2 linked regions of the Homo sapiens genome follow. The protein of the gene in region 1 purifies or fractionates together with the protein of each later gene. This does not show direct contact. Each region holds a gene or a part of one and is shown on either strand. Other genes may lie near its edges. The genes, in order: SPINK4 and TMEM67.

Evidence for each region.
Region 2: the proteins of SPINK4 (region 1) and TMEM67 purify together in Homo sapiens (affinity purification with mass spectrometry; 2 studies listed by BioGRID and IntAct, with this or other methods). This does not show direct contact.

What each region holds. Positions count from the first base shown.
Region 1 is NC_000009.12:33,245,844-33,249,130, forward strand, and holds the end of SPINK4 (serine protease inhibitor Kazal-type 4 precursor), read left to right. Parts: intron 1-772; coding exon 773-885; intron 886-2,582; coding exon 2,583-2,628; 3' UTR 2,629-2,724; downstream 2,725-3,287.
Region 2 is NC_000008.11:93,816,134-93,818,833, forward strand, and holds the end of TMEM67 (meckelin isoform 1 precursor), read left to right. Parts: intron 1-238; coding exon 239-319; 3' UTR 320-1,988; downstream 1,989-2,700. UniProt on the Homo sapiens protein: Required for ciliary structure and function. Part of the tectonic-like complex which is required for tissue-specific ciliogenesis and may regulate ciliary membrane composition.

The sequences.
Region 1 (3,287 bases):
CACTATTATAATTTTTACAGATGAGGAAACTGAGACTCAGAGAGTGGAAATACCTCAATTAAGGTTATACAGCTAATCAGTGGCAAAATTCAGGTTTCTAGGGTTCGGGCCTTCACGGTTGCACCGCACAACCTTTCTCAGCCTATCCCTGTCTCAGGCACTAATGCCAGTCCTGACTGAGTTCTCACCTTGACCTCAGGCCTGTCCTAAAACCCTTTCAGACAGCCTCAATTAAGCCCCAAGCTCTGCCCCATTTCTTCAGCCTTCGCACACTTTGCAGCCTTTCTGACATGGGCCTGATAGATCATGCAGGCCAGGGAGAGTTCAGGAGCCCCCAGGGAGAGAGGGGCCTCCTGGGAATGATGGGTGGTTCCGTATCCTGGGGTCTTCAATGGGACCAGCAGAAGTTCTGATTAGTGCCTCTGAAGAGGGTGTGAACAAGTCCCCAGGAGCTTGAGGGCACAAACTCACTCCACACACATAGACATAAACACAGGCATACGCTTGAATGCCTGCACACCGGGGGCTCCAGAGACACAGGTACACATATGTACACATCCAGCCATAGGCACACACGTGGTCATGCACACGCACATACAAGCAAACACACCAAGGGGCTCTGAGTGGTTGGTTTCATCTTCACTGGACCCACACTGGGGGCCTTCTTGACTCTGATACCTCACTGGGGCCCCACTGGTTCCGAGCAGAACCCCTGTATCCCTCCCCACTGCCTCTGAATCCCTGAGTCCTCTCCCTCCCTTCTCTTCCACAGCCCATCTGTGAACACATGGTAGAGTCTCCAACCTGTTCCCAGATGTCCAACCTGGTCTGCGGCACTGATGGGCTCACATATACGAATGAATGCCAGCTCTGCTTGGCCCGGATGTAAGTCTGCCCCACAACCCCTGCTTGCTTGGGTGGGCCCCATCTCTGGTGCACAGTCTGAAAGGAGCAAGACTTGACCTGCTTCTTCCTTCATACACGCTTGACCTGAGAAGAGTCCTCCAACATATGCCCCTAATAGAATGAGTGCCAGATTAACTCAAAGAAGGCACATGGTTCCAAGCAGAAATCTAGAAGCTGGTGGTGGATAGGGAGTAGGGGCAGAAACCATTTTCCTTGTTCTGCCTTGATTGACTAGGTGACCTCATCTGTTTTTTCATTCGTCTAGCCAGCAATTATTTATTGAGCATTTACTATGTGCTAGGCACTGGGGCTAGAACAGAGCCTAAGTTAGACAGCATCACTGGCCTTCTGGAACATACAATTGGTGTAAGGGGGAAGCCAGGCTGATAGTCAGCCAATTGCAGCACAGAATTTTTTTTTTTTTTTTTTGAGACAGACTCTCACTGTCACTCAGGCTGGAGTGCAGTGGCACGATCTTGGCTCATTGCAACCTCCGCCTCCTGGGTTCAAGTATTCTCCTGCCTCAGCCTCCCGAATAGCTGGGATTACAGGCGCCCACCACCACACCTGGCTAATTTTTTTTTTTTTTTGTATTTTAAGTAGACATGGGGTTTCACCATGTTGGCCAGGCTGGTCTCGAACTCCCGATCTCAAGTGATCCACCCGCCTCAGCCTCCCAAAGTGCTAGGATTACAGGCATGAGCCACCGTGCCCGGCCTTCAGCACAGAATTCTAAGGGATCAGTGGGGCACACAGGAATAAGTAGAAATTAGCTAGGAAAAAGGAGCAAGGGAAGATAATTCCAAGTAGATGAATTTGAAAAGGTCTACAAGGAAAAGTTTACATTTGAGGAAATATAAGAAGTTGGACATGTTGGAGTATAAGGTTTAAGGGAGAATCAGGGAGAGGCAAGAAGTGAGTCCAGAAAGATGAGCAGGGCTAGAACATGACCTCCCTACATCAGATCACCTATTGGCTCTTAGTTTCTTCATCAATAAAACCCATCTTCTATGATCCTGAGAACTAAATGAGACCATGGAAGTGAAGAAAGTCCTCGGAAGCTGCAAAGCTCTGGATAGATGTGAAAGTTTGTATTTGAGGAAATATAAGGAACATCAGGATGTTGTCCTAGCTTAGAGAAAGATCATGCTAATCAAAGACTCATGGTTAGGAGGTACATTGGGAGTGGAATTGACAGGCTTGGTATGTGACTGTATGTAAAGGCTGAGGGGAAGGAGGCAGCATACTGGTTTCTGATTTGTGGGCTTGGGTGGCCAGTGGTTTCATGGGCTGAGATGGGTGGTTTGGGGGTCTGTACCAGTTCTGTGGGGGGCAGTGATGTTTGTGGACAGTTGAGCCCCTAGGACATCCCACTGGATATGGACAACTGCATGAACAGGTAGGACATAGGTCCGAGCTGGAGACAGATTTGGCAGCCATCAGCGTGCGCTGGTGGTGGAAACCCCAGGAAGCTAAAATCCCCCAGGGGAAGGGTGTACAAAAAAGGAAAAGCTGTAGAAGGATGTGCCCATGGACCCTTGGGATCTGCCCTGTATCCATACACTGCATATGTGGGCGACGCTCAGCAGGATGTCTGGATGGACTGTGCCAGGTCCCTGAATGGTACACTACAGCTCCTGAGAAGGTAGCCTCATGCCTGTCTTCTTTGATCCTAGAAAAACCAAACAGGACATCCAGATCATGAAAGATGGCAAATGCTGATCCCACAGGAGCACCTCAAGCCATGAAGTGTCAGCTGGAGAACAGTGGTGGGCATGGAGAGGATATGACATGAAATAAAAGATCCAGCCCAACTGAGTGAAGTGGTCAGTGTCTCTGGGGACACTGGTTGCAGAGGGGATAGGAGGTGGATCTTGCATTGTCGCCTCTACTCTGAATTTGATGTCCAGCTTCTCTCCGTCCCTCTGGTGCTCCTCAACCCTGTCACATGTCCCCTCAGAGGTCCCAGTTATCTTCTGCCTGCCTGAGAGGCCAGTCCCTGACCCCAGGATGCTGCCTAGTACTCCTGTCTGCCCCAGCCTGGACTATCATTCAGGCCAAGAACCTAGGTGAGGTCTGTATCCTCTGCCACTGCTGGGGTGCACGGCCCAGCCTCAGAAAGCCTCTGTGAAATCAGGAACAGTAGCTCATACCTATAATCCCAGCACTTTGGGAGGCTGAGGGTGGCAGGATTGCTTCAGGCCAGCCTGGGCAACATAGCAAGACTGTCTTTACAATTTTTTTTTTTTTTAATTAGCCAGGCTTGGTGGCATGCACCTGTAGTCCCAGCTATTCAGGAGGCTGAGGTGGGAGGGGATTGCTTGAGCCCAGGAAGTCGAGGCTGCAGTGACCCATGATCGCATCACTGCACTCCAGCCTGA
Region 2 (2,700 bases), on another chromosome or scaffold:
GAACATGAGAGAATTTGTATTATTAATTCATAAGAATTTACTCTAAATGGGAACATACTATGAAACTATGAAAGAAATTATCATCTTGAAATAATTTTATGTATCACTATGGGATTCAGATACCTGATACATGAAAATAGTTGAGAGAATTAGCTAATTTAATCTAGATATTTTAATCGACGTGCATATTTAATTCTGTTTATATTTCTTTTCATTCTGAATTGTTTTAATTTTCCAGATTTTTAGATATATCCGTAATACAGTAGGACAAAAGAATTTGGCATCCAAAACATTGGTGGATCAAAGATTTTTGATTTAACTTCCTGAATAAATAACTTAAAGACTCAGTATAATCATGGCCAAAAAAAAGTCATGATATCAGGTTAGTTTGCCATATTTTTTAAAACTTATAATGCAGACTATTCTGTTTTTGTTTTTTATTTGCAGAAAGATTTATTTTTATAACTTGGGAATATATAACCTGATATAATAGAAAATACTGTTTTCCCATTGTGTGTAGTATTTAATGCAGTAAATAATAAATTAATACTGACAGTGAGGCCAAAAAAAATCTAAATGTTGCTTTCAGCATAATACTTTTTAATGCTAATTAAAACAGTCCCCATCATTTGTCTCTGTAGATTATTTTATAAACTGAGAGCTGCCTGAATCTTCTCACATTGACAAAGTAATTTGATTCCAAGTTTAAGACTAGTTTTCAGTTTGATATTTTCATGTTTTGTGTGCTTATGGTTAAATAAATGTTGAAAGATATTTTCAAGTTTACTTAGAAATTTTAAATTGTATTATTGCTGATTCAATTTGCATCATTCTAATTGCTCATCCTCTTTGGCAGTGGATTAATTCACTGTTGGGTTAATATGCATCTCATGAAATGATATCTTTTCATTCCTTTGTATACCTGTATTAGGTCAGTATACGCTTTCCATGAAATATATTTGCATTTCTAATATAGTTTACATTTATTAAGTTATAACGTATGACATTTTTCCCAATATCATTTTTTATACATTTTAATTACTTAATGTTTTAAGAGTTCTCTTCCAGAGTTTTGCTTTTCAATTACGTTTAAAGACTGTAAATAACAAACAGTAAGGCTGGGCGCTGTGGCTTACGCCTGTAATCCCAGCACTTTGGAAGGCCAAGGCACGTGGATCACTTTAGGTCAGGAGTTCAAGAACAGCCTGGCCAACATGGAAAACCCCATCTCTACAAAAAATACAAAAATTAGTTGGATGTGGTGGCCTGTAATCCCAGCTATTTGGGAGGCTGAGGCATGAGAATAGCTTGAAACCAGGAGGTGGAGGCTGTAGTGAGCCAGATAGCACCACTGCACTCCAGCCAGGATGACAGAGCAAGACCCTGTCTCAGAAAAAACAAAAACAAAACACTGTAAATGTATCATGTTTCTCACTGCTTTCTATGTTAATGCTGTGTAAATACTTAAAATGGAATACTGTATAAATATTATTTATATTTTCTCAGATGAAAATATATACTAAAACATTTGGTATTTCTGTTTTCTGTTTCATTAATGTATATCTGATGGAGTACCATTTAGGAATATAACATTATTGGGGCAGAGGTCCCAGCCATTGCCAAAGTTGAATCTTTTACATTTCCCTGAATCTTGAGGATGACTGAAAAGGAAGTCTTTGAAACTGCAGTTTCTGAAGGATCACAGTACAGGAATGCCTTTATAAAAGCTGCAGAGATAAATACATGTACTTATATGGCATGGATATTTAAAACCACTCACTCAGAAGCATATGAAAGAAATTCAACCATCATTCAACATAGAAGAAGTTAATTTTAGTGCAAAAGTTTTTAAGTATTAAATTTCACAATAAAGGATCAATTGGCTTACTTGCTGATAAATTAAAACAGAAAACATTTAAAATCATTCTAAATTTTGTATGATATTTTTATTTTGGCTAGGTGCATAAAAATGTGTTCAGATTTTCATACACTGTCGACTCCTTTGTTCACATTGTCACAATTTACATTTCCTGATCATGTGCATAATTATTCACTAGATTCATTACCCTTTGTCTATTTCTGTAGTACCCAATCACTATACTTTGACTCTTATATCCCTGATTTTACTGATTTTCTAGAAACATTTGATTTCTCTTCATTTCATAATGAAACAAAACCTAGAGAGGTTCTTTATAAGCTGTTGTGTACTTTGGATGCTCCTTAGAAACATACAGGCCCCTAAAATACTTCTGTAGACCAGTGCCTCTGTTATGGGAGATTTGTAAATGCTTCCTTCTCTGGCATTGCTGTCCTAACTGCCTTTTCAGAAGGCTTTGCTGATGACCTACATTGAGGAACATTCAAAATGATCATTAACTCAGCACTTACAAGCATGAAGCATGTGTTTTTTTTGTAAATATTGACAAATATAAGCTGAGGGGAAATAACTGTAAGTCAAGGAGCAGTGAGGAGTGTGGCTTAATGGAAAGTGCTCCAAATTTAGCAAAAGAAGCCCTGGATTCAAATTAGAATTTTGCCCATCACTCATAAGCTTTGGTATCTTGAACTAAGTCATTTGCCATCATTGAGCTTCATTCTACATCTCTGCAATGAAAATAATATCCTTTGCTTACCACTTGTTGTAAGGATTAGTTTCGTGGGTGTGTGTGTGTGAGACAGAGAGAGAGAGATGGGGTCTCA